Homo sapiens: one gene and its partners. The protein of the gene in region 1 purifies or fractionates together with the protein of each later gene. This does not show direct contact. Each region holds a gene or a part of one and is shown on either strand. Other genes may lie near its edges.

The links.
Region 2: the proteins of BZW1 (region 1) and ENPP1 purify together in Homo sapiens (affinity purification with mass spectrometry; 3 studies listed by BioGRID and IntAct, with this or other methods). This does not show direct contact.
Region 3: the proteins of BZW1 (region 1) and SCCPDH purify together in Homo sapiens (affinity purification with mass spectrometry; 3 studies listed by BioGRID and IntAct, with this or other methods). This does not show direct contact.
Region 4: the proteins of BZW1 (region 1) and TMEM43 purify together in Homo sapiens (affinity purification with mass spectrometry; 3 studies listed by BioGRID and IntAct, with this or other methods). This does not show direct contact.

What each region holds. Positions count from the first base shown.
Region 1 is NC_000002.12:200,806,634-200,815,011, reverse strand, and holds the start of BZW1 (eIF5-mimic protein 2), read right to left. Parts: upstream 3,103-8,378; 5' UTR 3,022-3,102; exon of another isoform or gene 2,842-3,021; intron 2,828-2,841; exon of another isoform or gene 2,705-2,827; coding exon of another isoform or gene 2,703-2,704; intron 2,627-2,702; exon of another isoform or gene 2,605-2,626; coding exon of another isoform or gene 2,519-2,604; intron 1,805-2,518; coding exon of another isoform or gene 1,795-1,804; coding exon 1,731-1,794; intron 1-1,730. UniProt on the Homo sapiens protein: Translation initiation regulator which represses repeat-associated non-AUG (RAN) initiated translation probably by acting as a competitive inhibitor of eukaryotic translation initiation factor 5 (EIF5) function.
Region 2 is NC_000006.12:131,810,546-131,818,099, reverse strand, and holds part of ENPP1 (ectonucleotide pyrophosphatase/phosphodiesterase family member 1), read right to left. Parts: intron 1-7,554. UniProt on the Homo sapiens protein: Nucleotide pyrophosphatase that generates diphosphate (PPi) and functions in bone mineralization and soft tissue calcification by regulating pyrophosphate levels.
Region 3 is NC_000001.11:246,719,943-246,727,774, reverse strand, and holds the start of SCCPDH (saccharopine dehydrogenase-like oxidoreductase), read right to left. Parts: upstream 3,367-7,832; 5' UTR 3,353-3,366; coding exon 3,163-3,352; intron 884-3,162; coding exon 771-883; intron 1-770.
Region 4 is NC_000003.12:14,127,498-14,135,051, reverse strand, and holds part of TMEM43 (transmembrane protein 43), read right to left. Parts: intron 5,641-7,554; coding exon 5,491-5,640; intron 4,231-5,490; coding exon 4,096-4,230; intron 3,473-4,095; coding exon 3,378-3,472; intron 2,507-3,377; coding exon 2,457-2,506; intron 2,190-2,456; coding exon of another isoform or gene 2,187-2,189; coding exon 2,117-2,186; intron 1,314-2,116; coding exon 1,243-1,313; intron 283-1,242; coding exon 161-282; intron 1-160. UniProt on the Homo sapiens protein: May have an important role in maintaining nuclear envelope structure by organizing protein complexes at the inner nuclear membrane. Required for retaining emerin at the inner nuclear membrane.

The DNA of each region.
Region 1 (8,378 bases):
GTCCAGACACTGGAGCTCTTGATCCTTTTCCTTAAATGTCCATAATATTAAACAAACAAAAAAATTGAACCAATCCTTTGGCATTTATGAAGGTGAGCTTTAGAAAGTACATTTAATGAGCACCCAATGACAGAAACTATATTAAGCATTTGCTTTAATCCTGTTAACAACCTTGTGAGGCAGATTTTTCCCCCTATTATTCAGAAGGAAAACTGAGAGTCAGAGAAATTAGGTAATCAAGAGACTATATTGTGTAGTAGTTCAGTACATGGGCTCTGGAGTTAAACTGCCTGATTCAAATCCTGACCACCATTTAACCACCTGAATTCAAGCAAATAGTCTCACTCGCCATGCCAGAATTCCCCTACTGTAAAATGGGGATAAGAATAGTACCTATCCCATAAAGTTGTTGTAAATACCAAATGACATTAATAAAATAGAAAGCTCCCAGACCACAGCCTTGTGCACATACCTGACCTTTACTGAGTTGCTTTCACACACTTCATAATAGGGTTTTGCTTTCCCAATCTAGGCTAGATGACATCTGTTCACACAGTACTAGGGTGACAAACACCTCTGAGTGCCCAGCACTTTCCTGGTTTTAGCACTGAAAGTCTTGTGTCTGGAAACTCCCTCAGTCCCAGACAGGGAGTGTTGTATACCCTACCCAGTACCCTAACCATCAACAGCCAGGCCACGAATCATCTCTATCTGGAACCGGGGAAGTTACATCTCTCCCTGATGCTAATAATAAGAATGCTAAAGCTACTTGCTATTATTTGTATCAAGGTAACATCAGTAACCCACATATTCAAGAGATACACTTTCCCATTTTACTGCCAAACTGTTCTAGTTTACAACTCCAGCTCCTTAAGAAAATTTACCAGCTAAATCTAAATGAATCTGCAAAGATTAGAATCAAATCACACTTTGGTCTCCCCACCACTACTACAAGGGGACAGACAGCCTATGATTAGTGATTTTAAAATTCTACAATATATATCTCAAAATGTCTGCTACTTAAGGAAGAAAAAGAAAAACACAACTTATAACCAGTAGCTGACCTAGTTCTTCATTTCCTCAAAACCACCTGTAAAACAAGGTTAATATGCTTTTGACCAAAAACAGTAAAAATATATCTGAGACTACGTCTTATTTAGCTTTATATCACTAGCACAGCACTTTGCTACAGAATTCAATACTCACCTAAGTACACACTAATGCAAAAAAAAAATAGTAATATAATTCTAATACTTTTTCTACTAAGTCTGTATTTCAAAAGACATTACAATGTGAATCCTGTTCCACAATTAACTTCCATGGGTGAAGTCTGAGTTTTCTCTCACAAATCTTCACAAAATCTGGGTGACTACATTAGGAGTTCTCCTTTTATAAATTAACATTTTTGCTCATTTAAGTTTGCTTAAATGAGACTGCCTGCTAGTGAAAACAGAGCCCTTATTTTTATTTTTAAAAATATTTTACCTTCACACCGAAAAGAAGATTCACTAACCGGCTTAGAGATATATTGATACTAAAAATTAAGGCTTGAGCAGTAAAGCAGTAGAAATATTAAAGGTGTATGTGAAATGGCAGTCAACGAGAAATTCAAGTTTCTTTCTGGTATCTTCTTTTGAGGCTTTAGTAATATGCAAGTACCTGTCAGAGAAGGCAAGATACACAAGATGTTCTGGAGGTTTGAAGAGAGACATTAAAACGTAAATATTTACCTCTTTTTCTAGTTTTAAAACGCTGGCCTGATAGCGTTGGCTTTTGCTGCTTTTGATTATTCATAAAAGACACCCTAGGAAAGGAGAAATAAAGCCTTAATATCAGTGCCATAATACTAATTTTTAAAGCAAAACATCAAACCTTAGTCTAGTCACATATGAATCAAATGGAACACCCACTCTCAGGATATAAAGCTGGCAATTATACCCGATACAGGCACAAAGAATTACCTGCACTTGAATCAAATGTACGTCAAAATGTGCATTTCTCTCTACAAGAAACCCTTCAAATTAGTGCTGTGAACTACTTTTAAGCGACATTGTAGTGCTACAGTGATCACCCGTCATAAACCTAATTGTTCAGTTTTCTCCACATTCCTCTTTACATTCACTTACATCTTCCACGACCACTAAGCATCGCAGAACGCAAAGAGAGATTATCACCATAGTCAGCAGGCATCCAAAATGTGTATGCCAATTCTAAAACACTGTCAAAAGGTGAACCCCTTCTTCTGACAAGCCTGGTTACGGGCAGCACCATCCTACCCTAGGTCATGCCTGTGACCGCAACAGCGGCCGCCTTGCACCACTCAGGCCTGCAAAACTAACAGCCAGCCCAGCCTCCTTCGCCCATATCCCACAGTCCTAGCCTCCTCCCCGGTAACGTGTCTCCCAATCCACACCCTTCCCATGCCTCCCGCCCGAGCCACAGATCACCCGCTTCCCGCCCAGGACCCCATCGGCCACAGCGGGGCGCCGTAGGGTCCCGCGGCTCTTTCTCCACTGACCCTGTCGCCTGCGGTGGCGGCCGCCGCAACGAGCGGACCACAGTCACTGAGGCGCTTTGCGCCGGGGCCCCAGGCGCCCCGTACATCCGCCCGCCCTCCAGCGAAAGCAGCGGCGGAGGCGGCGGCCGCAGCGGTGGTGGGTGGCAGCCCCTCCGCCCCGCCCGCCGGAAGCCCCCACGCGTACATCACACAACAGAGGCCGCGGCGGCTTTGTTAGCCAGGCCGGGCACGGCCCAGAGGGAGCCCGCCTCGGCCACTGCCTTCGCAGCCAGCGCCGCGGCGCACACCCGGACCCCACCTCCCCACCCGGGCCGCCGCTACCCCTCGGCCTCCCTGCCGAAGCGGCGGCCTTTCAGGCCCTAGATCCGGCCCGGCCTCAAGAGGCGACCTCCGTTCGGGCCCATCCAAGCCGGGCCGCATCCAGCCCGCCGCCTCCCTCTCCCTCTGCCCGGCGTCCACGACCCGCAGCGTCCGCCCGGGGTGAGCGGGGCGCCGCGTCTCACCGAATTTAAGGCGAAGAGGAAAGAGCCAGAAATCCCCGATGTACCGGCAACTGCGGCGGTGTCTCCTCTGCGACCGGAACTAACGCCAGGAGGAGGGAGAGGTGCCACCCCCGCCCGGACCGCTCTCCTATCGCGAGATTTCTTCCCCTTGCCCCGCCCTGATCGTGGACAGGCGCTTCCGCCTTTTCTATTGCGCGCGGATTAGGGTGAGGGACTGGGATAGGGGAGGGGAGAGACGTTTCCAGTCTTCTTTATTCCCTTACTGGGTTCCACGTCGCCTGGACACTTGTCCTAGACTAGCTTATTTTTCTTCCCCCGCTGCGTCGTCCGCCCTCTTCACACATGGAGGGGTTGGAAGAGCGGAGCCGGCCCCCGCCGGTCTCGAAGTTGGACGCGTCCTCCTGGAGTCCCTCGCCGCCGGCCCCCTCCTCCAGCACCGGAAGTCGAAGCCCGAGGGCGGGGGGCCCTCGGGTCGTGCGGGGGCGGAGGCTGGGGGCGGGCATGGGGGCGTGGTTTGGGGAAGGAATCCGCACCTCGCCTCCGCCCTGGCCGGGATGGGCGGAGTTCGCTCCAGCTGAGTCCCCTGCCTGGCGACTTTTCTCTGAGGGGCTGTCTCATTGTTCACTACCTCCCTTAAGAGCGAAGAGGACACAGGCCGAAGATTGAGAAGGGGAAATTCTGTCCTCCAACCGCGGTCCCTGCGCGCTGCAGCGGTTGTCTCCCGAGTGTGGTGGCTATGGGGACTTGGAGAGCATCAGAATCCCTTGGAGGACTTGTTATAACAGACTGCTGGGCCCCACCCGTAGTTTCTCATTCTGTAGGCCTGGTGTGGAACCCATGAATGTGCATTTCCAACAAGTTATCTGTGATGCTGCTGCTGGTCCGCACCTTGAGAACCCCTCAGTTAGAGGCTATATCATCAGGGAGCTGGGGTACGATCAGATTAGATAGTGCGTGTGAAAAGCACTGTGGACGTGACAAAACTCTGTGCAGATAAAGATGCACAGCGCCTCTAGGATGTAGCCCCATGTTTTTATTCACTGTACAGTAGTTTACTTCTCTCCAGTTGCTTCCTCACTCTCTGGTAGGAGGAGAGTGGCTTCTCTTCCCTAAACCTTTTGATAAAATAGTTTGTTGACTTCTTTTCCCTAATTAACTATCTGACCTCTACCCCACCCCCCCGCAACTTCATGGAAAAATGACTTTCTCAGCGTTCGTTCCTGAAATTATTGCCAAACCCAGTGTTTTATTCTTCACCCTGTTTGCCTCCTCTGAGCATTGAATGTTACCTACCTCTCTCCTTGAATCCTGGCTCCAGCTATCCTGGTTACGTTCTGAATGTGCCTTTGCACGGTATTTTCTGACTCTTCTTTTCTGTACTGATACCTTTTCTTTCTGGATACTTTCTTCTATGGCAGTCTCATACATTCTCAAGGATTTAACATTTACTCCACTTAAAAGAGTTCCAAGATCATCTACTGAATCATTAAGCAAATATTTGTTAAATCCAGGCTCTATGCCCTTCCAAGTTGAGGCAACAGCAGTGGGAAGGAGGCAGGAAACAAACTGCATCTGTTGGAGGAACTGCAAGAAGCTAGTGTGATTGGGAGGGCTGTGGGGAGCAGAGGGAAGTGGCTGGAGTCTGATCTCTAAGTGTCTAGCCCCTTCCTTTCTCCCAAGGCCCCAGTCCACACTATCTGGCATCTTCACTTCATGGCTAATTTAACACTGTCAGTGCTGTCAATTGCTCTTCCCCCAGAACTGTATTTTTCACATCTGAAGTTCTGTTAAAGGACAACGTTTCACAAATAAAAATGATAACTAATATGTCCCTATATGTATCAGGCCCTCTTCTATGCACTTTATGTAGTAACCCCATTTCATCCTGAAAACTACCCTGTAATCTAGACACTATTATTAGTCCCATTTTACAGATGGAAAAGCCGAGGCATCGAGGTCAGGTAACTTGTCTAAGATCATAGCGCTAGTAAGTGGAAGAGGTCCAGTTGAACCCAAGCAGTCTGGCTTCACCATTATAATGCACCGCCTTACCACCAAGATCTTATTTATTCATTCAACAAATATTTATTCAGCTAGAGACCAGTAGAGATAGTGACATGTTACGCCTATGGCCTCACAAAGCTTATCTTCTATTTTTGCCACGTTTTAAAATTGTATCATCTTTCCCCAGTACCATCTTGATTTAGGCATCTATTACCCCTAACTAAATGGGACTTTTGCAATAACTTCCTAACTGTACTATCCCCTTTCTCAACATTTCCAGAGCAATCTTCTCAACTGCAAGCTGAATCATTTCTCTTCACTGTTTAAATGCCTCTGTTTATACTCAGGGATAGCTCTGACCAATGTTTTTCACCTTTACTTCCCATCACATTTGTGGTTCTTAACCTGTTATTACCATCATTGTGGGGTATGTAGCAAATGATTTTTGACTAAAAATGATATTAAAGTAAGCAGATTATTTTCTTTAAAATGTAAAGTGGATTAAAGGTTTTCCTGAACTCCTGGCCTCAAATAATCCTCCCACCTTGGCCTCCTGAAGTGTTGGGATTACAGACCACACCTTGCCACTTATCTTTTCTCTGCTTTTGGGTGCACCCATGGGAATAGGCACCGTGCAGCTAGCAGGGGAAACGTTGTTTGTGAATTGTATTATGGTAGGAAAAGGTTCCAAACAATTGAACTCTATGCTTTGGTCAGACAGGACACATCTTGTCTTGACCTTTCTTGAGATGTCCTTCCCTCATTTTCCACTGTCAAAATCCCACTATTGTTTCAAGCCTTATCTCAACTACTGCTTTTTTCCCATAAGCCTTTCTTAGTCATGGATGTGAACACATTCCTTCTTTGTAATTGGGCTACAGGCATGAGCCACTGAGTCTGCTAATTTTTTTTTTTTTTTTTTGGTGATGATGGGGTTTTGCTTTGTGGCCCAGGCTGGTCTCAAACTCCTGGCCTTAGGTGAGCCTCCCGCCTCAGCCTCCCAAAGTGCTGAGATTATAGGTGTGAATCATCACGCCTAGCCTTGCCCAGTTTTATGGTTGTTTTGGGAAAAAGGATATGCTGATTTCTTCACTCTGCCATTGCTGTGAATCCCCCTTAGTACTTTTGGATTTAAAAATTTTGAACTACTTAAAAAGAAAGGTGCTAAGTGCAACATGTGAATGTGCTACTGCTTTTAACTTCATTGATGGGAATGGATACCTAAGTGTTTCTTTTTTAAAAGCAAGTGACAATAGGTTTTTATTCCTAACAACTAGAAGAATATCAAGGGCCTGTTTTGAAAAGCACATTGTTGCCCTTGGAAAATGAGCTGGGGGAAGTATTTATTCCTATGCTTTGAGTCTTGTAGAAGCTTATAGAACATCCTATGAACCTGGCTTAAATATTGTAGCATATGTATATGAAATACTTCTAGTTACACACACCTATATATGTATGCATATATTTATGTATGTATGTGTGGCCAGAAGTATTTTCATAGGCTCCACAAAATTTTTACAGTGAAAAAGCTTTGAGGTACAATGAGCTTTTAAATAATTTCATTTTAGGTAAAAAATGTGTTAAATATCATTCACTTGCTACATATCTCATATATACCATTTCTTTTACTTCTTCATAGAATTATTTTAATAGTTATAATTATTAATAATATTTGACATAATCAAGATAAAAAGCATTGCTTAGTTACATTAACATTTTAGTAATATTTGTTAAATAAATACCCTCTTTTAGCAAACACACTCTATTATTTAGATTTTAGTTTTTTTTTTTTTTTTAATAGAGACAGGATCTGGTTATGTTGCCCAGAATGACCTCCAACTCATGGGCTTTAGCAATCCTCCCACCTCTGCCTCTCAAAATGTTGGGATTTATAGGCGTGAGCCACCACACCTGGACTCGATTTTTGAATAGGCCGAAATAATTGGGAAGCTTAGGGATTCAAGAAATTTGGCATACATGCATTTTCTGTTTCTCTCTCTCCCCTCTTAACATCAGAATAATGACAGGTTAAGGTGAAAACTCTTTGCTCCTGTAAAGTGCTTGTTCAGAATATAGTTTGAAGTGAGTTGCCAAATAAGTGATATTTGGGGTGATTTAAATATGTGCATTCTAAGTTATATAGCATTCAAGACATTCATTAAAACGAAGCAAAATAAAAACCAACAAGAGAACAGTGTAATGGCATGTGGTATGTTAGCTATAGGATTGTTTAGAAAAAACTGTTTACTGCTTATTATTAATAGTTCATATCTCCTAGAATATTACTGCAGAACTGAAGATTAAGAAATGTTACTAAGAGGCCGGACGTGGTGGCTCACGCCTGTAATCCCAGCACTTTGGGAGGCCGAGGCGGGCGGATCACGAGGTCAGGAGATCGAGACCATCCTGGCTAACACGGTGAAACCCCGTCTCTACTAAAAATACAAATTAACCGGGCGTGGTGGCGGGCGCCTGTAGTCCCAGCTACTCAGGAGGCTGAGGCAGGAGAATGGTGTGAACCCGGGAGGCAGAGCTTGCAGTGAGCCGAGATCCCGCCACTGCACTCCAGTCTGGGCGACAGAGTGAGACTCCGTCTCAAAAAAAAAAAAAAAGAAATGTTACTAAGGACGCCAGATCCAAACATCTCTGTGTTGGAAAATTATCTCCAATGCATAACGGTTTCCTTGGCATATTTAGATGGCCATCTTTCTTTGATGTCTTTTTTAAAACCTACATTTCATTTTTTGGGAGCCTCAGTGCGATGGAATTTTTTTTTTTTTTTTTTTGAGACGGAGTCTCTCTCTGTTGCCCAGGCTGGAGTGCAGTGGTGCGATCTTCACTCACTGCAACCTCCGCCTCCCGGGTGCAAGCGATTCTCCTGCCTCAGCCTCCTGAGTAGCTGGGATTACAGGTGCGTGCCACCACCCCTGGCTAATTTTTGTATTTTTAGTAGAGACGGGGTTTCACCATGTTGGCCAGGCTGGTCTCAAACTCCTGACTTCAAGTGATCCGCCGGCCTCAGCCTCCCAAAGTGCTGGGATTACAGGTGTGAGCTGCCGCGCCCAGCTGATGGAAAGTTTTTATTTAAGATGAAAAAGCAACTAAACTAAATAGAACTTAATCACTGCCTTATTGCTATTATTAGTAGTACTACTGCTATTACTTGGTATGTACTACTATTAGTAGTAATAGAGTGGTCACAGTAGACCTTAAATTTATAGAGGATGTTACTGTTTACAAAATATTTTCACATGCATTTTATAATTCTTCACAGAAACTTTGTGAGAAAGTAAGGCTGCCTTGCTTTCAAAGCAAGCTAACTATAGATAGAATTGATGATTATTAGTCTTCCA
Region 2 (7,554 bases), on another chromosome or scaffold:
CTTGCTAACGTCAAAAAAAGCTTTCTAAGCAGGAGGGGGATCGGGAAACACATCTTTAGGAACAAGCTAGTTTCTCAAAAATATTCACCTGAAAACCAAGATAGTGATTTTTTTTTAAGACTCTCAAATCACACCTGTTATAGGATGTTTGCCAGCTAAGTCTGTGCAAAGTCCTGAAATACGGTGAGAAAATGGTCAATCCATAAATGAGAAACACTTGTGACAATTCGCTGTGACAATTTACTTCCTCCAAAATGATTTTCTTATGCATATTATACATATATATAAAATATGGAGATATGTACATACACACGTGTGTGTGTGTGTGTGTGTGTGTGTGTGTGTATGGAGAGAGAGAAAGAAAGAGAGACAGAGAGAGATTGAGAGAGAGAGAGAGATAGACATGGGGTTTCATTATATTGCCCAGGCTGATCTTAAATTATGGCCTCAAGTGATTCTCCTGCCTCGGTCTCCTTTAGAGGCATGAGCCACCACACATCCCAAAATCACTTTCTATCAAAACTCTCTATTTTTCTATTCTACTACATTTCAAAATAAGCCAAGAAGGAAACTCAAACTAAGAAGAAAAGCACAATTTCCCAAAAGTATACCTACTTTGGAAGCTCCCAGAAACAGCTGATTGTTGACTTCACACTAATAAAGTGCACTAATTTTGGCTTCCACCCAGGAAAATCTCATCACTGAACTACCAAAGACACATATATATCTCAATATAGAGGCAAGCTTTAGCATCACCACACCAGAAATTTCTTAGGTTCTAATTACACATTGTTATACTGAAGCAGGCAAAGGAGAGTTGGAAACCCAACAGCAGGCCAAGCTTGATGAATAGGATATAACATTTAGCAAATGAATGGGATGGCATTAGCTATTAGTCCGTGATAAAAATCTGTAGATAAAAGTCCTTCCAGTTACCATCATAGTCTATTATGTACTAATGGTGTGGCTTTTGCCTATAAATTTAGCCCATTGTTGCTAGAAGTAGAGTAAATCAACCACCTACATCTGAATAACTTGAGGTGCTTGTTAAAAAGTGAGGATTCTTTGGGTCCATTCCAAATCTATTAAATCATAATCACTGAGATTGGAGCCTAGGAATCTCTGTCTTTAACACTTCCCAGGTGGTTTTTATGCACAATAATGTCTGCATGGAAACCTGACTGAATCCCTGACTGAGCCTCAGATTCCTTATCTGTAAAGCAGAATTGACTGTCATCATACTTTCCTATTTCACAGTTGTTGAGTATTGAGGATCAATCAAAAATATATGGGAAATGCTTTTTAAAGCTGCCAAGTGCTACAAAAATGATTATAACCATCTAAACTTCTACCACCTACACTTCTACCAACACCTCTTCTAAAAACTAAAAGTAAAAAAAGGTAAAAATAATTTTTCAAAGACACTACAGATATCTTAATTCTTGCAACTAAATCTCAGATAACTAGAATACTCAGAAAATAGTCTTCCCGTTAATATTTAACTGAACATTCTGGTCACTCTTTTGAAAAACCTTAAATGTGTTCCTACATTGTCTTTCCTTGGTAAATGCATAACTTAGTTTTTATCCGATGACAAGGGATTTTCGAGCTGGGTCAGAATTCTGAGTATCAGGTTTTGTTGCACAAGATTTATGCTTAGAAGAGTAATCTATGTTCGGCCCTGAGCTCATTTGCTAAAAGGTTTCTTGTTTATTTTTTCTTGTTTGGGGGGTATTTTATGGTTGATGGAGGCATGCTTATTTTAACCAAAAGCAGATCTCTAATTACAAGTTGTATTCCAAATGCTTATTTGTTCCTAAGTTGTCTGGAACTTAAATGCCTCTCCCCATAGTAAGAAAAAAAAAGAAGTTATAAATCATGATAAAGTTCTCTGGCTTGTACAAAAAGGCCACAATATAGATGAAATACATTTGCTGTATCTTAAATGTCACACAAATATTTTACAATGGTAGTCATCAAACTTGAGAGCAAAATTGAATATGAAACTATTTTCATTTACCTTTAACATTGCTACTTAAGATAAAAAGAGTCAGCTGGATGAAGATGAAAAGCTGATACAGCCGGGCGTGGTGGCTCACGCCTGTAATCCCAGCACTTTGGGAGGCCGAGGCGGGCAGATCACTTGAGGTCAGGAGTTCGAGACCAGCCTGGCCAACATGGCAAAACCCTGTCTCTACTAAAAATACAAAAAAAAAAAAAAAAAAAAATTAGCCAGGTGTGGTGGTGTGCGCCTGTAATCCCAGCTACTCAGGAGGCTAAGGCAGGATAATCACTTGAACCCGGGAGGCAGACAGAGGTTGCAGTGAGCCAAGTTCACTCCACTGCACTTCAGCCTGCACTACAAAGTGAAACTCCGTTTCAAAAAAAAAAAAAAGGCTGATAGATAAAAATTTCTGTAAATGCTCTAGAAAGGTTAATGGCCCCCAGTTCTTTATTATACAGAACACATAAGGTCTCTCAATGTGACCACCAAGGATTTTCTTCAGAGTCATGATTAGGATATGATGGGGGCAGGAGATGACAAAACTGAGTGTCCAAAGTTAACTAAACAAGTGAAATAGAAATTAGCAAAGTGCTTTTGAAACAGTAGCTACGTATCCCTGAGAAAGAGACAACATGGAGTGGAAACAGCTGAGCTACAAATGGTGAAAAAGAAATACCAGAACAAGATTCAAGGCAGAAGAAAAGAAGGGACAGAAAGCAATGCTGAAGAAGAGCGAAGAATCACAAAGACTGAATTCAGGGTGTGGCAGCAAAGTTATCAAAACCAAAGAGGCCTTGGTGTAAGTGAAGGAGGCTCTCCTTCATACATGCCGACTGCCACACTTGGAGTGTCTGTACCTGAGAGAATGTTCACTGACTAGATTTCTGATTCTGAATCCACGTTATCACAGAGGCCCCGTCTGCCTTCTTCTTAGGCACCTTCACCTTAGTTGGGTACTTCTGTTCCTTCACTATCTCCTCCATCTCCCTATACCCAAATAAAATTATATCCCAGTTTTAATCTTACCCCTGAATTTATACCCAAGTGTCATCTCTATGTGGATTCCTGACCATCACAGACCCTATGGGTCCCTGCTTGTGTATTTAGTCTTCCCATCTTCCCCTTTTCCAAATCAAAGTGTGGCTCAGTCTAACAAAAAATGCAGTACATTCATTCAAGCAATTAAAAGCTGACATTGAGTGTCAGGTACTATCCTCTGCCTAATAGTAAAAACAACAGTCTTGGGTTCCTAGGAATCCTTTATGTATTTTATTAGAACATGTGAAACAAATACCATAAGGGACACAGAGAACACTTCTCTGGCCTCTTAAGATGCTCTGGTTATTCTGAAATTAAAATGTTCAACTATGGCTGGACAGATAACAAATTTTATAAACCAAAGGAGCAATGTCAACTCCAAGTCTGATTAAGAGCAGAGACTTAGCTTGAACATTCTTCCTTCCATATTCTAGAGTTAAGATAATGGATCATAAGGGAAGGAAAAGGAAGCTAATTGAATTATAATTTTTACACCCAAATCTCAAATAATGCCAGCTTCTGCCTCTTATAAAGAAGTCTTTCACAGCATATACTCAGGGCAACTTGAATCTATGCTCCTGGGTTGTATTCCTCAAACTTGGCCCAAATAAAGCTCTATAATTACATTAATTTTGCCTTGGTTTTTTTTTTCTTTAGGTCAGCAGGATTCACAGTGACTTCCCACCACCACCTGGTGTTTTTCTCTAAAATCAGTGCTTGGTACCAGCATGAACTCATTGCATTCTCCATTTTTGGAAGTCCTACCACATGTTGTGGAGATGAGGTCTCACTCTGTTGCCCAGGTAGGTCGTGAACTCTTGAGCTCAAGCAATCCTCCCACATCAGCCTCCCAAAGTTCTGGGATTTCAGGCATTAGCCTCTATGCTCCGCCAGAAATCTTATCTTGTGTGGTTGAAGCTCATTGAGATTGGATGGATCGGCATTTCCATTGTGCAAACCACACTCAGTCTTCCAGAGTGGAAGAATAAATAAATGGAATCATGAAAAGTTAATTGGCAAAGCTTACAGAAAGCTTTAACCTTCCCTGGCCTAAGGCTCTTCCATTTGCTTAACTTACATTCTACCCTGCTTGGAAAACATCAGCTTTCTCCTTTTGAAATAAGAATGGAAAGATCCATGCACCTGGATGAAGGAGACTACGAACCAGCTCTCCTGAAAAGTTGTAAACTAAAAATAAAATCCAAAGCCCTCGACCAACTGAGTGGACCCACTCTCTGCCAAGGAAACCCCAGAGAAACCTCAAAAACTGAGCTCTCAGTCAAAATAGGAAGAGAGGTCAAACGCACTTAATTCTACTCCCTCCCTTTTGGAGTTGAGGCGTAACAATTGACCAGCATTAATGTTACAATAGAAATAAGACCGCGAAAACGTCTCTGTGGCAATAAGACACCAAGTTATAAACAAGACCTTAAGGGTATGCAAGGGGAGGGTTAAGTCATGTCTGCACACCCATCAATTTTGCTACATAGCATCATGCTTAACTTACAACATCCCTTTTTTTTTTTTGAGACAGAGTCTTGCTCTGTCACCTAGGCTGGAGTGTAATGGTGCAATCTCGGCTCACTGCAACCTCCGCCTCCCAGGTTCAAGCGATTCTCCTGCCTCAGCCTCCCAAGTGGTTGGCACTACAGGCATGTACTACCATGCCCTGCTAATTTTTTTTGTATTTTTACAAAAAAAGAGGTTTCACCCTTTTTTTGAAGGGGTTTCACCATGTTGGTCATTCTGGTCTTGAACTCCTGACCTCAAATGATCCCACCTGCCTCAGCCTCCCAAAGTGCTGGGATTACAGGCATGAGCCATCACACACAGCCACAACAGCCCTTTCTGTTGATTCCAAGTTTTAGACAGAGCCTTACTCCTTTAATCAATTGCAAATTAAAGAATCTCCGAATCACCGGGCAAAGTGGCTCACGCCTATAATCATAGCACTTTGGGAGGCTGAGGTGGGTGAAATTCCTGAGCTCAGGAGTTCAAGACCAGCCTGGGCAACAAAGTGAAACCCTGTCTCTACTAAAATACAAAAAAATTAGCCAGGAGTGGTGGTGTGTGCCTGTAATCCCAGCTACTTGGGAGGCTGAGACAGAAGAATCGCTTGAACCCAGGAGCGGGAGGTTGCAGTGGGCCGAGATTGTGCTATTGCACTCTAGCCTGGGCAACAGAGCAAGACTGTCTCAAAAAAAAAATCTCTGAATATGCTGAATAAATAACCTGTAAGCCCTTGCTTTAAGATATCCCACCTTTTCATATGGAATCAATGTATACCTTTCATGTACTGATTTATGTCTTTGCCAGTAACTCCTGCCTCCCTGAAATATATAAAAACACACAGTAATCCAACTGCCTCAGGTGCACATTCTCAGGACTCCTTGAGAAAGTGTTTCCCCGAGCCACAGTCACTCATCTTGGCTCAGGATAAAGCTCTTTAAAATATTTTACAGAGTTTGGTTTTTCCATTAACAAGGTGATACTCTTCACTATTGTCAAGGCCTTATAAGTTTCTCACTGAAAATTCTAAATTAATTAAGGATTCTTTTAACAGCAAGCTCTTAGGAGACAAAAACATCAAAGATCATGGTCTCCAACCTGGAAGATTTTGTTTAATAGAAAATACCATCAAATAAAGGACTCCTAGCCACGTTAGAAGGGCCAATATCAGGCTACCCTGCCTAAGTGGACATCTTCCTCAGTGGAGATCTTCAACACTTTGTTCTTTAGACCAGGACAAGAAGTGGATTAAAATATTCATTTGGTTACCTTCAGGAATAGGAACACTTTTCATATTTGTATTTCAAGTTGTTTTGTTGATAATTGTCCTTATTTGTGTCATCCTTTTGATTCTTAAATTGATTATGCTTTGTATTTCTAGATGTCTAAAGTCTACCACAAAATTCTATAACAAAAAACTCATCATAATAGCTAGATGCTTAGAAATGACCCAACATACCTCAACTCCAGTGTAAGTGAATGACCTGAAATCCCGCTGCTCTGTCCCCTTATTTTTCAATCCAATCCCTGAATTGTTGCCTACCAATTCAGCCTTGGAACCTCACTAAGTTTTTAAGTGATAGTACTTCTGCCCATCTCATTCCCTCTGACATGGGACAAGACTATCCGGAAATGAGCCTTCCCAGCAATGTGGGACAAACTTACATCCAAAACGTTGATCATCAGTATTTTAAGAAGAGAAAGATTTTTATTAAAAGGAGGAAATGAGAAAGAAAAATTGCTCAGAGCAGTCTGAGATATGCGAACTATGCAAAATTTATCAGGCCCAGAGGGACATGAGCATGGGACTTCAGTCACATCACTGCACCCATTCCCAGGGGCAATTCTTTAAAAGCATTTTGTTCCTGACAGCTGCCTCACCCACTATCTTCATGTTCCTGGAATGTGTGATACAAAGAACAATGTATAGCCAACCAATAGCTCGTTATTGTAACATGAATGCTTGATAAACAACTTAGGAACTGCCTCTTCCTTTTTCCTTTAAAAACCCATTTGTAACTGCTGCTAATAGGAGCATCTACTCAGGGCAACTTGAATCTATGCTCCTGGGTTGCAGTCCTCAAACTTGAGCCAAACGGACTCTCTACATATATATAGATATAGATATAGATATAGATATAGATATAGATATAGATATAGATATAGATATATAGATATAGATATAGATATATGTTTTTTTAAAGAACTCTTTCACTGAAACATGAAAGTAGTCTTCAGTGACCACCACCCATACGCAAGCCCTTTACACATACACAGATACACAGATATATGTATTCATAAGTATAGCAGAAGGTCACAAACAACACAAAAAAAATGCTTTTGAGGAGCTAACTGGAGAAATGTATTGCAATGTAGTTGAGAATTACATGACTGTAAAATCACACCAAGAAACAAGAAGGATATTTAAATACATCTCCAAGTCAACACATCTCGGTGGAAGTCTACACTTCAGTTCAAAACTTCATTTACAACCAAGGAAAGGCATCTAATATTTAACATACCTACTGACACATGTAGAGAATAATACTTGTTTTTCCCTCTTGCTGTTTTCCTCAGTTTGGCTCAGTACCTAGGCACAAGCATTCCAGGGCCCAGGGCCAAAAGCCTCTAAAGCACAGCTTGGTGGCCCTCTCCTAAGATCAACCACCACAATGGGGAGAAGCCAGGGTAGGACAGAATCCTCACTCCTTCATCCACTCTCACACATCTACATCATTTTAGTTTATCTGAGAAAACTGCAGAGTAATGTAAAAATTACATTGCCACTGCAACATGATTGCCTCTGAAAGGCAAGGCAACGCAACTCTTCTATTTATCCTGCTAAATTAAAACAGTGTAGCTGAGGATCATAGTGCTGGGCCTCTCCTAATCCCAACCCCAGGTTGCAATTAGTTCAATCTGTTTCTGCAGCTTTATGAAAAGTGTGCTGAGGTTTAATCTGAAAACAAAAGGAATTCTATAATTGCAGCTCCTTTCTAGAA
Region 3 (7,832 bases), on another chromosome or scaffold:
AGTCTTGCCAAGCACACTGGCATCTCAGGACCTTTGTGCCTGCTGTCCCTGGAAAAGTCTCTCCTCAAAAGGTTCATGCAATTTGCTCTCATTTCATTCAGATCTTGGCTCAAATGTCAATTCCTCACAGAAACCTTCCCTGACCATCCATCTAAAAACACCAATATGCCAGGACCTTTTCTCCTTTCTTGGCTTCACTTTTCTTCAAAGCACTTTTCATTACCTCCTATTACAATCCTATTTTTCTGTCTTCCCCAAGAACGTAATGTCCACGAGGGATTTTCTGTTTTGTTCACCATTGTGTCCCAGGTGCCTACAATAGTGCATTTCACATGTGGTAAGCATCAATAAATATTTATTCAATAAATGAGTCGTTTTTTAGTCTTCTTTTTGTGCATTTAAAAAATATATTTACCCAGTAGTACAAGAATATAATTTATAAATAAAAAATATACTAGGGAGACACACTCAAACATTTTTTACCGAAGGGGTATATAGTAAAAAGGAAAGAAAATTCTGACAATCACAGATGTAACCAATCAACAAGCCAGCACACATGCCCTAAGGAGAACGTCATGGAGAGCCTGTCACTCACTCTCTCAGGAGACTTTGGTCATCTCCAGCTGCTCCTCGCAAGAAGAAAAAACTCCCCATATGGGGTTAAGGCCTTCAACCAACAATTCTGTCCTCTGTCCTTATGTTCCTCTGGAATATTTTGCTAGAAATGAATGGATTGTTTGTTCTGATACAAAGAAGGGTTGATTACTTACTGGTCCTACGCAATTGAGGACAACTGTTGCCTGTTTAGCCATTTCATCAAGCGAGGCTGGATTAGCAATATCACAGATGATGATTCCAACTTCAGATGACAGTGTTGGTCTTCCTAAAATAAGAAACAAATGAAGGAAAGTAAATCCCAGTAGAGGATTATATCTTCCTTATCTTCTTTTTACAGTAATCAGTGACAGCAAATTACTAAATACACTGATATGCTGAAAGCTAGCTCTCCTGCTTAGACAAAAGATAAAACTGTTTTTAATCAGGTAATACAAAAGGAAAAAATTATGAGGAAAACTGAGTTAACACTAAGAGTTACTAAAAAACTGACCTTTTAAAAAAAATCGAATCAAAGCGTTGTGTAAATAACAACCCTGTGTAACATGACAATTTCACAATCAAGTTTAAATGCTGAGCAGATAACTATCCAGACTTCCTCTCCAACAAGAAATTTATGTCATAAAATAGTTTCTTGGCCAGGGGCAGTGGCTCAGCACTTTGGAAGGTCAAGGTGCAAGGATCTCTTGACCTCAGGAGTTCCAGACCAGCTTGGGCAACATAGCAAGACCTTGTCTCTACTAAAAAAAAAAAAAAAATTATCTGACATGGTGGCATAGCCTGTAGTACCAGCTACTCAGGAGGCTGAGGCGGTAGAATCACTTAGACACAGAGGTCAAGGCTGCAGTGAGCTGTGATCACGCCACTGTACTCCAGCCTGGGTGGCAGAATGAGAACTTGTCTTTAAAAAAATAAAGTTTCTCATCAACCACTAAACAATTACTATGATCCAATTGTAGGTGATGGAGAGTTTCGGACTGACTGTTAACATCAAAACCATCAGGGCTGGGTGCAGTGGCTCACGCCTGTAATCCCAGCACTTTGGAAAGCCGAGAAGGGTGGATCACGAGGTCAGCAGATCGAGACCATCCTCACTAACACGGTGAAACCCCGTCTCTACTAAAAAAATTAGCAGGGCGTGGTGGCGGGCGCCTCTAGTCCCAGCTACTCAGGAGGCTGAGGCAGGAGAATGGCAAACAAACAAACAAAAAACAAAAAATTAGAACTCTGAGGTGAAAAGCACACGCTATATAAACACACACAGGCTCATAAGAAAATAATTGGAATTAACTGGCTCAACTAAGTGATGCAGGTTTCAATAGGTGAAGGTATATCCCCCCACAATGAAACTTGATTTGGGCATTATATATGATAAGTGACTAGGCTGTACCGGTACGATCTTGCTGAGCCGAAAAAAGAAATGGAAGCATATATTTTCATAGTAAAATTACTTCTGTTGGAAAAATAACGACCAAAAAGCTCTTTGGTCAGAATTACGTGTTGGTAGTGTCAGCACCAAAAGCTGTAGGAGAGTCCAGCCTACGTGGTGTCTTCTGTACATAACCACGAACAAAAGCACTCCGAGCAGGGCATTGTATGAAAGTAGATTAAACAGAAAGAATGTAGTATTTCCAGAACTCTAATGGGTGTCTGTATAAGGGAAATCTACGGGAGTTAATAGCCAAATTTAAAGGCTACGGAGTCGTAAGTCAGATGTCTCCCCAGCCATGAAGGCAGCAGGATCCGTGTGTCTGTCTCCTCTCTGTCCCATCCTGCACCCCAGACTCGGGACAGGTCTTAGCATGGACAACGTCACTCAATAAATATATGCTCCTTCAATGCTTAGAGAATCAATAAATATATGCTACCTGAATGCTTAGATTATCAATAAATATATGCTACCTGAATGCTTAGATTATCAATAAATACATGCTACCTGAATGCTTAGAGAATACGTAAGCGTCTAAACCAGAAATACACACTTTTTATTCTCTGAAGAGGAAGACTGCTGGAGTATTCTTACACACAAAACAAGAAACTAAAACAGAATAGCCACAAAGACACTGTCAGTACAACTCGTAAGCTTGCTCTCCCGTCCTCAAAACACGAGGCAAAGGGAGACTCCGATCTCCAAGAGACCAAAGCCCTCCTCTCCTCTCCGACCAAACATCTAGAAACCCGCAGATTCAACAGGTGCCCCCGCTGCGGGGCAGGATGAAGCAGAGAGAGGGACAACTCAAGTTCTTGACCATTTCGCCAGGGGAGCTCCCCAAACTGAGGCAGAAATGCAAAAAGCGGGAAAGAGGAGAAGGAAAGAAAAAAAAATGTGTGTGTATATTATACACGCACGCGCACACACACATATAGTTAAGGAGGTGGGACAAAGCTATGGCAGTATTTGAAACATCTCTCCCTCTCCTCTTCTTGTCCTCACGCAGGGCTCGGGGACACGTAGGGCGCATCCCTGCGGGAGAAACGCTCGTTTGGGGCGATGCGGGGTCCCCGGCCCAGCCGCCCGCGCAGCCCCGTCCCGCCCCGCCGCTGTACCCAGCTTCAGGGCCGCCTTCTCCAGCACCCGCTGCAGCTTCTCCCGGGAGCGGCCCGCCACGGCCCAGGGCAGGCGGGAGCTCCGCTCCGGGTCCACCTGCTCCCGGGCCACCTCCTCGGTCACGAACTGGCCGGTGAAGCCAGACGCGCCGAACACCACCAGGTGGAAAGGCCTCTGCTCGGTCGCCATGACGAGTCCACAGCGAGCCCAGGCCCCGGGGCGGGTGGAGTCCACGGCGCCTGCGCCTCAGGCAGCGACCCCAGTACCCGGCGCAGCAACGGCCGCCGTCGCCGCAGCCAGCGCGCCGGGCTCCCTTCACCCCGCGCGCGCCGCCGCGCCAGGGCCGCGCCCACGCCCACGCCGCCTCGCGCGGGAGCCGCGGGTGAGCGGCTTGCTTGGGAGGCTTCCGACGGGAGGTTTCCTAGGGCGGTGGCCCTGGGGGCGAGTCCGCTTCCAAGCCTGGCAGGCGCGGACGGCGGCCCCTAATTCCGTGCGGCGGTTTGTTCTGCAGGGCTCTGGCCGCCCCGGGCAGCGCATCTTCTAGCCCTGCTGGAAGCTGGAGGCGGCAGCCGGTTGTCCTTGTTGCACGTGGGGGTGGAGCAAAGAGTGCGAGAAAATCTGCGGATGGCCTCGGGGATGGCCCACCCCGAGAACCCTTGAGCTTGCTTGCTTTCTTCCTTTCTTTCTTCCCTTTTTTCCCTTTCTTTTCTCTTTTCTGTTTTTGAGATGGAGTCTCACTCTGTCGCCCAGGCTGCAGCGCAGTGGCGCGATCTCGATTTACTGCAACCTTCGCCTCCTGGGTTCAAGCGATTCTGCCTCAGCCTCCCGAGTAGCTGGGATTACAGGGGAGCGCCCCCACGCCCTGCTAATTTTTGTGTTTTTAGTAGAGATGGGTTTTCACCTTGTTGGCCAGGCTGGTCTCGAACTCCTGACCTCAGGTGATCCACCCACCTCGGCCTCCCAAAGGGTCGGGATTACACGCATGAGCCACTGCACCCAGCCCATTCCTGATTTTTAAAAACTCTCATTAAAATAGGAATAAATGAATGCTTTTAAAAATTTTGAAATATATGTCTTGCAAAAAAGGTACAGCCAATAACAAATATGTACCCTCAACACAGCTTAAGAAAAATATTCCAGATAGCGAGGCTTCCAGGTATTCATTCCTGAACACATTTCCTTTTGCGTCCCCAAGACGGCCACTTGCCTGAATTTAGTGTTTATTATTCCTATTCCTATCTTTCTGCTTGTTATATATGTATGTATTTATAAATATTATAGTACCGTTTTGCATATTTTGAATATTTTGTAAATGTCAATCCTGCAGCTTTCTTATTTGGTCATGATGTCGTGAACTTATTCCCAAATGATTCAGAATAAAAAAAAATGTCTGTGATACGTGTGTGGAGAGAGGGAGAGAGAGAGAAATACACCAAATTCTACAATGCTTTTGTACAATGTTGTATAGTGCTTTTGTGCAATATAATACAAAGAATGCTACAATAAAATTCTTGTACCTTTCTCCTAAAGCACCTGTGCGAAAGTGTATTGAATATGTGTCAGGAATGAAAATGGTTGGTGCTAGAATATCCATATTTGAGTTATCTCACTGCTCTTTAAAGCACATGCACTAATTTTCGCTCTCAGCGGGATACAAGAATCCTCTTGCTTTACGTGCTTGTCAGCACTTGGTATTCTCAGACTTCATGCTTGTCCATCTGGTGGGTGTAAAGTAGTAAGCATTCAAGTATTTATTAAACACTTAACTATATACTGGGCACTAGGAATAAAGTACTGGGGATATGGCAACAAATAAAGCCCCTGCCCTCAAGAAGTTTACATTCTAGTGGAGTAAACAGTCACTAAAAAATAATCTTACAGAGCCAGGTACAGTGGCATGCACTTTTAGTCCCAGCTACTTGGGAGGCTGAGGCAGGAGGATTGCTTGAACCTAGGAGTTGGAGGTTATAGTGAGCTACACTCCAGCCTGGGTGACAAAGTGAGATATTGTCTCTAAAAAGAAAATAAAAACAAAAGAAAACAAAAAACCCTAAAAAAACAGAATATATATATATATATATATATATATATATATATATATATATATATTTTGTTTTTTGGGAAGCATGCTTGCTATGGTTTGGATGTTTGGCCCCCCCAAATCACATGTTGAAATGTAATCCCCAGCATTGGAGGTGGGGCCTGGTGGGAGATGTTTGGGTCATGGGGGTGGATCCCTCATGAATGGCTTGGTGCCATCCCCAGGATAATGAGTATGTTCTCTCTGCATAAGTTCATACAAGAGCTGGTAGTTGAAAGAGCACTCATCCTTCTCTCTCTTGGTCTCTCTCTCACCATGTGATACATTGGCTCCATTTCACCTTCTGCCACGATTGGAAGCTTCCTGAGGCCTCACCAGAAGCAGATGCTGGCACTACACTTGATGTACTTCCTGCAGAACCATGAGCCAAAATATAAACTTTTTTCTTTATAAATTAACCAGCCTCAGGCATTCCTTTAAAGCAACGCAAAAATGGACTAACATAATGGTCATTGCAGCATTGCTTTGTAATAACAAAAAGTAGAAATAACTGAAATGTCCTTTATCAGAGGAATTATTAAATAAATTATGGTGTCCTATTCATTCAATAGGAACTGTGCAGCTATAAAGAATGAAGAATGACTATTCAGGTGGTTCTAGGTAAAAAACACACAACAACAACAAAAACAAAAGAATGAAGTAGGCTGGGCACAGTGGCTCACGCCTGTAATCCCAGCAGTTTGGGAAGCCAAGGCAGGAGGATCACTTGAGTCCAGAAGTTTGAGACCAGCCTAGGCAATGTAGCAAGACCCCATTTCTTAAAAAAAAAAAAAAAAAAAAAAAAAATTTTTTTTTTTAATTAGCTGGGTGTGGTGATGTGCATCTGTAGTCCTAGCTACCTGGGAGGCTGAGGTGGGAAGATTGCTTGAGCCCAGGAGTTCGAGGTTACAGTAAATCATGATCACACTACTGCACTGCAGCCTGGGCAACAGAGCAAGGCTATGTTTCTAAAAAAAAAAAAACAAAACAAAACTGTGTATAGTGACACGGAAAATCTTCCAAATTTCCTAACATTACAAGAGTATATTTAAGACAAAACAATGTATGTATATGCACACAAAATGTTAAGAATACATGATAAATCTTTTTTTTATTATACTTTAAGTTTTAGGGTACATGTGCACAACGTGCAGGTTAGTTACATATGTATACATGTGCCATGTTGGTGTGCTGCACCCATTAACTCATCATTTAACATTAGGTATATCTCCTAATGCTATCCCTCCCCCTTCCTCCCACCCCACAACAGGCCCCGGTGTATGATGTTCCCCTTCCTGTGTCCATGTGTTCTCATTGTTCAATTCCCACCTATGAGTGAGAACACGTGGTGTTTGGTTTTTTGTCCTTGTGATAGTTTGCTGAGAATGATGGTTTCCAGTTTCATCCGTGTCCCTACAAAGCACATGAACTCATCATCTTTTTATGGCTGCACAGTATTCCATGGTGTATATATGCCACATTTTCTTAATCCAGTCTAACATTGTTGGACATTTGGCTTGGTTCCAAGAATTGCTATTGTGAATAGTATTGGGGAACCTGCCCCGATATTCACGTAGGTTCTTTTCTATTTTCCCTAAGTGTCGGCCAGCTTGAGAAATAAAGGGACAGAGTACAAAAGAGAGAAATTTTAAAGCCAGGCGTCTGGGGGAGACATCACATGTCAGTAGGTTCTGTGATGCCCCACAAGCCGCAAAAACAAGCAAGTTTTTATTAGGGATTTTCAAAAGGGGAGGGAGTGTGTGAATAGGTGTGGGTCACAGACATCAAGTACTTTACAAGGTAATAGAACATCACAAGGCAAATGGAGGCAGGGCGAGATCACAGGACCACAGGACCGAGGCAAAATTAAAATTGCTAATGAAGTTTCGGGCACCACTGTCATTGATAACATCTTATCAGGAGACAGGGTTTTGAGATCAACTGGTCTGACCAAAATTTATTAGGCGGGAATTTCCTCTTCCTAATAAGCCTTGGAGCCCTATGGGAGACTAGGGTCTATTTCATCCCCTGCAGTCTCAACCATAAAAGACAGGTGCACCTGGGGGGGGGCTGTTTATAGGCCTATACCTCCAGGTGCGTATTCTCTTTCCCAGGGATGTTCCTTGCTGAGAAAAAGAATTCAGTGTTATTTCTCCCATTTGCTTTTGAAAGAAGAGAAATATGGCTCTGTTCTGCCCGGCTCACCGGCACTCAGAATTTAAGGTTATCTCTCTTATTCCCTGAACAATTGCTGTTATCCTGTTGTTTTTTCAAGGTGTCCACATTTCATATTGCTCAAACACACATGCTGTACAATTTGTGCAGTTAATGCAATTATTACAGGGTCCTGAGGTGACATACATCCTCCTCAGCTGACAGGATTAAGAGATTAAAGTAAAGACAGGCATAGGAAATCACAAGGGTATTGACTGGGGAAGTGATAAGTGTCCATGAAATCTTCACAACTTATGTTTAGAGATTGCAGTAAAGATAGGCATAAGAAATTATAAAAGTATTAATTCAGGGAACTAATAAATGTCCATGAAATCTTCACAATCCACGTTCTTCTGCCATGGCTTCAGCCAGTCC
Region 4 (7,554 bases), on another chromosome or scaffold:
CCCGTGCCCAGGCTGTGCCGTCACCCAGAGGGCCTCTCCCACTCAGCTGCACTTGGCCAAGTGCAGCTGTGCATGCGACTGAACTGAATCTGCCTGGCGCAGGAACCTGATCCTAGCGCCCTGACCCTCCTATTTGGAGAGCCCAGGCCTCTCCGCACACCTCTGGATACTTGGGATTTTCGCTGTGGTAGAAAAAGTCTCCACGGCGAATGATGTCCACATGAGGGTCCTCCAGCTTGGATAGGCTCAGGGACTTGAAGTTGTCGACTTTGTCGATGAGGCCTGAGGGGACCAGAGTGGTTAGAAACCCAGGGGACCAGGTGAAAACCTCAATCTGCAAAGTCCCTGGCCTGACCCCCTTCCACTGCACCCCTGGAGCCTGCACACGTGGCACTCCCACCTGCAGTGCCTCTTTCTGACTCTGTCTCGTCCACGGCTTCCCCTGGGTTAGACCATCTCCTCCAGGAAGCTTTCCCTGTGCCCTCTCCCACCAAGTCAGAGTGACCACAGCACTGGGAGTGGCCTTAGCCCTTTTCCCTTCCATCAAGGTTACGGCCATCCACGTCCAAGCCTGACTCACCTCCTGGGTTGAGAGCTACTTGAGGGCAGGCCCAGCTGGCACACAGGCACCATCCAGCAACAAAGCACACAGAAAGCGGCCAGGCCAGGCCCAGGATCATCCAGCCTCCCCAGGACTATCTGGGCCCTTGGTATCCTCTCCCACCTTCATGGGTCAGGCCCAGGAACAGAGCCCCAGGGTTACTCTGGCCCATGGTGCCACCTTATCCCTTGCAAGCTTCTCTTTGGAGTCAATGGGGGATGCCTGTGATAAGCTAGTGCCTTCCTGGGACAGGTGGAACTCAGAGAGGGGGAGCCCTAGGCTGAGAGCACTGAGCCACCACATGTCTACTACTAGCCGGAGTCTGCTTGAGGAAGGACTGTCTCAGCAGAGTCTACTCAGCAGACACCGGCACGCAGCAGGGTGAGGATGCATGCCTGAGTCATTCTCTGGAACAACCCAGATTTCAGAGGAACCTGGTAGGATGGAGTGGGGTGGGGGTTTCTACGTCAGCCCTTGCTTCCTGGGGATTCGCCTTCCCCTGGCCCCCAAAGCATGGTGCTGGGAAAGGTGCAGACTGATCCTGTGCCTTTAGCCCTCTGAAGGCTGAGTACTGGGAGCTCCGGCCCTAGGGGGGCCTTGTGCTTCTGGCACGAGCTCCTCTGGAGAGGCCTGAGACTTACCTGACGAGAGGAAAAACCTGCCAATTTGGACAAAGGGGGCTGTTGCCATGAATGACTCCACTGCCATGGCACTGTGGGAGAGAGGAAGCTGTCAGAGATGGGCACCGGTGTGGGAGCTGCCCGGGTCCCTTTGGGTTGTTTGTGCTGGGCAGGGTCCCCACCCGGGGGTTCCTGCAAGTCCAGATTAGCCCAGGCGCAGCAGACATCTTGTCCTGTCCACCCCCAGGGGCCCTGTGCCCCCTCCCCTGGGCTGAGCACCCTCACTCTGTCTCCTGTTCCCCGGAGCTTCCTACCCTCTTGCCTAGACCCCTGCCAGCCTGTCCTGCCCCACCCACTGCTGTCAGATGTATCTTGCATGGACTTTACACCCCTCACTAGCCCCTCCCAGAGCATTCCATCCCAACCATCTTACTGGCACAGCCCAGACCATTGCTGAACAAGGCCTGCTCTCTAGCCACACCCAAGTGTTATGCCCGCCTCACCACTGGCATGCCGTGGAGCTAACCTCCCTCTGCTGAAATCCTGAGAAGCCTGAACAAATGCCGCTGCCTCTGGAAAGCCTGTCCTGATTGTCCTCCCACCCATGGCAAACCATTAACAAAATGCTTCCCCGGCCCCGTGTGTGCAAATCCCCTTAGACGCTTAGTGCAGGCCTTATATTTGTGACTTGTTTGCGGGGAGCTTGTCTGGGGTCAGGGGAGACAAGTCTCTGTGTTCCTGGTGCCCAGCACAGGGCTTGGTCTCAAACCCATGTCCCACATTTTCAACCCACGAGGCAGGATTAACTCAATCCTGTTATTCAGATGAAGAAACTGAGGCTGGAGACCTGCCAGTGTAGACAAAGCTGCACTCAGGCCTTGGGCCTGGCTCTCACCTGGGGTTTTTGTGGCCAATCTCTCGGTCGAAGTTTTTGCTGTTGATGATTTCTGACCTCCATTCAGTGTCTGCTCAGGGAGAGGAATCAACTCAGAGCCCGGGTAGGAGTGGCACGCGGCTGAGACCCACCAGCCCAGCTCCTCCTATCTCACAGCCAAAGGGGTGGGTCAGGGAGCCTCAATGGATGGGTGGGAAAGCAGGGCTCTGAAGACTTGCACCCAGGGATCCTGATGCCTGGTGCTGAATCCTTCCCATGGCCCCACCAACAGCCCTGCTGTCCAGCCACCACTGTGGGCCCCCACCATGGGCAGAGACCACGTAAGGGGCCCAGCACTCACTGTAGGAATACCTCGTCTCCTTCTTCACCTGCCCATCCTCGGTGTACTCCCTGCAGGGAAAGCAAAGCAGCCACGGGGGTTAGCCTCGTCGCCCCAGGCAGTCTAATCTCTAAGCATCTGAGCAGGAAGCAACCTCAGGGCTACCAGATCAGACTCCCCAGATACGGCAGATGCCTTCTCTACACCAGCCCCAAGACAGGGCACTCACTCCTGACAGACAGCCAGCTCCTGCCCTCCAAGGCGCTACCTGGAGGAAAGCGCTCTCCCATCCTGAGCTGAAATCTGCCCGCACTGGCCTTACACCAAGGGGCCCAGCCCTGCCCTTTGGGCTCAGAGATCTGGCTGCATCCTCTGCTCCAGGACAGCCCTGCGGGGGGCCTCTTGAAGCTGCCCTTCTCCTGCTCCTCCCACCACCTCCCCACCTGTCGGTCACAGTCCATATGATTCAGGTGGGGCTGAACCCACCCCCAGCTCCAGGTGACCCCAGCCCTGATCAATGAGAACCTGCCCTGGGACTCCTGTCAGAAACGATAAGCTGTAAGTAGAGCAAAGATGGGACCAACACAGCTGATGGGAAGGCTGAACACAGAGAGATGCAGTGGGGTCTCGGGGTTGACATGCTGATCCTAATGACAGTGTTTCAGGCCTGCTCCAAGTCATGCTTCAAGCTTGTGCATCTCTGGAACTTCCCAGATGTGGGAGCAACTCAATCCCCCTTTCCTCCTGGAGCCACTCTTCACTGGATTTTTGCCACTTCCAAATCACTGGCTATTAATTTGGGGATCATTTCACACTTTTCTGATAGGAAGATGTTATACTTGAGTTTCAAAGGTATCAAAATGAAAGACATCTGCATGTTATCCTGACACCTACACTTCACTCCTCCTTTACCCCAACAGAGTTTTCACCCCAACAGCTCACCTGGACTCCTCAGTTTCTACCCATTGGTACATCTCCACGTGCCTCCGCAGTTTCACAGCCGGAAGATGGACCCCATAGTTTGGATCAGACAAAAGCTTCAAACAGAATCAAAGAAACCAAAAAAATAAAGGATAACATTCACGTCAGCCCAGAAAGCCTGGCTCAGGGGAAGCTGGACTGGAAGAGGAAGAAATAGAGAAGGGGACAAGGGTGGAGAGCCCTACACTGCTTTGCAGGGGAGAATCGAGGACACTCCCTGTCCCAGGTTCTTTACACACAGTGCCTGTGACTGTGACCCTCACAGTACAGGCCTGGGCTGCATGGCCCAATGGCATGGTGCCAACAGCGTACAGGGTGTTCAAATAACAGGAAAGCTCTGGTGCCCAGGGTAGTTTTGTGGCCTTGCACTGGACACACATGGTCATCAGAGTCATGAGAGCACCTCCCTGAGTGCCAGCCACTGTACCAAGGCGTTAGTTACCTAATCTCACCAAATCCTCAAGGCTGGCCACAAGCTTGTAACCATTACCGTCCCCATTTTATACACGAAGACACTGAGACTCAGGATAGACAAGTCCACACAGCTGCTGAGTGGTAAAGTCGGGAATCACTCCCATGTGTGACCATCTCCAAGGCCCATGCTTTCAAATCCTCAGCCAGACAACATCCAGGATGAGCCCCGAGCCACTGGCAGGTCAGCATCCCCTGCCAAACCTACCTTGGATGTCCGTAAGGCGCCAATGATGTGCACCAGCCTTCCTTCATTCTCCGGAGCCACACTGTGGATGCTGTCGGGAGACACCACAAGCGAGAGCCCCTCAGCCAATGAGGTTGCCGTCTTCAATGCGCGGCCCTGGGAGCAAAGGGGAGTGGGGATTTCAACAGCTCAGGGGTGGCTCAGCATGACTGTGCTTGTTGCAAAGTATTAGGGTAGGATGGGGCCTCCGGGAGCGCTGAGACCCATCTCCCCACCGTACAGTTGGAAAACTGAGGTCTAGCAAGTGGAGAGTAAGGACTGGAACCCAGATTCCTGCTTTCCCAGGGAGACTTCTTCCTACTGCCCCATTGGTTCCCACTAGCCCCCACCAATCTTAGCACTGCCCCAGTGGTGGGAACAGCTGATGTTTCTGCCTGCCTGTCCCTTTCTCCCCATTTTTCTCTGCCTTCTTTTTTTTAATTTTATTTTTATGTTTAAGTTTTTTGTAGAAATGGGGTCTTGCTATGTTGCCCAGGCTGCTTTCGAACTTCTGACCTCAAGCGATCCTGCCTCCTTGGCCTCCCAAAGTGCTGGGGTTACAGGCTTGAGCCTCCATGCCTGGCTCTCCTCTCTCCTACTCAGCCCATGTGGTTTACCTGAGTCTATCTGAACCCTGGTCAGATTATGGGACCCAGACCTTGCCAGTCAGAACATGTGAGTGCGCCCTGGACACGGAGACTGATTCAGAGGACGGAGAGCCAAGCCAGGACACTGAGAGATGGCCCTGTAACTGCTGCTAAATTGATTTAGAAATATACTGTTGCATCATGAGGCCCTATTAAAAAAAAGGAGAAAAAGAAAGAGAGAGGGAGAGAAAGAAAGAAACAAACAAACAAGAAAGAGAGAAAGAGAGAGACAAAGGAAGGAAGGAAGAAAGGAACAAAGGAAGGGAGGGAGGGAGGGAGGGGAAAGAAAGGAAAAGAAAGAAAGGAAGAGAAACAGATGGTTTTTCTCTTCCCTGGGCTAAGTGGTTGGATGTAGGCCAGTTGCTGGGGCCACATTTGCCATCACAGATGAAGTGCCTGCCCAAGAAAAACACCATAATAGAGAAAAACAGGCAAAAGATGAAGAAATGGAGATTCCTGGTGACCCAGCATGAACACCTGGATCCAACTACGCCTGAGGCAGGTGCTAACCCCTGGATATTCAGGTGTGTGAACTGATCTACTCCCCTTCCTGCTCACATCAGCTGTGGGATGGATCACAATGGAAAGAACTGTGATTAACTCAGTATCCTCCTTTCTCTTTTTAAAATCTAGGCCCTTGATTACCAAATCCAGCCTCCGGGTTCATCGCCTTTGCTCTCTGACATGGTGGGGACTCTCACTCTGCACAGGAAGACCCCAGACATTTTACCTCATTGGTGAAAATTAGGTAGAAGGAGAGCAGGAAGGCCATGAGCCCCACAAACATCCCACCCGAGGTCTCGCTCAGCCGTTCCAGGAAGCCTGGCTGGGAGCTGGTTTTAACTTTGACATGTTCTCTCCGGGTACTGGTACTGGAATACTGAAGAAAAAGAAACAGTAACAGAATGAAAACTAGTTTTTAAAAATAAATTAAATTTGCTATTTATTTATACTCAATTTTTTTTTTTTTTTTTTTTTTTTTTTAGTTTTAACTGTATGTGGTAAAAACACACAGATATTCAATGTACAGTTTGGCAGGTTTCCACAAACGTATATTCCATCTGACCAACATCTAAAGCAAGGTACAAAATATTTCCATCACCCCAAAAAGTTTCTTTGTGCCCCTTTCCTGCCAATTCTCCCCCTCTCCACCAACCAGAGGTAACTGGTGGGGATGGGGAGAATCTGAATTTGAATTTCTCCTACCGTAGATTAGTTTGTTTCTTCTACAACTTGAGAAAAATGGAATCAGGGCACCAACTCCTTTCTGCCCAGCTTCTTGGACTCAGAGCACTGCTTTTGCAATTCATTCATGTTGTGGTGTTTATCAGGAATTTGTTCCTTTTCATGGCTGAGTAGTATTCCATTTATGACTATACCACAGTGTGCTGAATCATTCGTCAGTGGATGGGTATCTTGACAGCTTCCAGGTTTTGGCTGTTATGAATAATGCTGCTGTGAATATTCATACATGAACCTTTATGCAGACATGTGCTTTCATTTCCCGTAGGAATATACCTAGGAGTACAACTGCTGGCTCGTGAAGAAGATGTACGTTTAACTTTTTATGAAACTGCCAAGCTATTTTACAAAGAGGTTATTAGAGATGTATTTTTAATTAAATTCAGCAAACAGTGGCTGAGCTTTCTGAGGGCAGTGCTAGCCCTTGTGGGGTCAGAAGTAGACAGTCTTAGGGCAGTGAGGTCACAACCATAAACAATACTAGAAGGTCACACAGAGGGTCCTGTGATGGGGGTGGACTTGGTGCTCAAGGAGTGACCCCTTCCACCTGGGGTATCAAGGAGGCTCCCTTGAGTGGAATCTTAGAGGCAGATCTTAGGGGAAGAGCATCCCTAAAGGGAGAACCGTATCAGCAGTGATGAGGAAGTAGGAAGTGGTTCTGGGGGAGCAGCTGCCTGTCTGCTTTGGCTGGGTGGGAGCAGTGGAGGAAGAAAGGGCTTGGAGGTAGGCATTTCTGGGCAGGTTCACAGTGGGCCTCAAACTCAAGGGTGAGTGGATCAGGCTTTGGTCAATAACAGAGGCATGATTTGGGGTGCATCCACTGCTGATCAAAAGTGTCATCGTCTAGGGCAGGATTCTGGAGCCAGAAGAACTGGGTTTGCATTTATGCTCTGCCACATACCAGCTACGGGGTCTTGGGCAAGCAACTTCACCACTTTGTGCCTTCCATTTCCTCTGTGCATAGGGTTGTGGTGAGAACCAAAGAACACAGTTATTGGGTAGCTCAGGGCCTAGGGCGTGGTAAGCACTGGACACGTGTTAGCTAGTAGAAATGTTACCAGATTTCCCTACAACTGATACTGGGCTGGCACCAGGCTGGGGGTGAGCTGACAAAAGTCACAAAGATGTAAAGTGGGGCCCAGCTAAGACAGGCCCCATCCTGGTATTGGGGGCCAGAGGAGTGATTTGACTCAGAATCTCTGCTTGAACAAAGCTGATGTCGCATTCTGATTGTCTTTGAGTACCACCAGCCAAGGCCTCCAGTGACCAGATGTCCATGAATCCAGAAGTCGTCTTGACTTTCCATGCCATTTGGAAACATTAGGTGAGTGAATCACCACATAGGGGCAGGTGACCATCACAATGATGACAATGGCAAACACACCGGGTCTATCACAGGCCAGCCCACAGGCAAGCCCAAAGAGCGGGATGTCATAACGACCCCATTTCACCGATAAGAAAATCGGGCTCAGGGTTACGTCATCTTCCCAGATCACACAGCTTCTAAGAGGAAGAGTTAGGATTCAAATCCGGGCAGACTGGAGGCTACTCT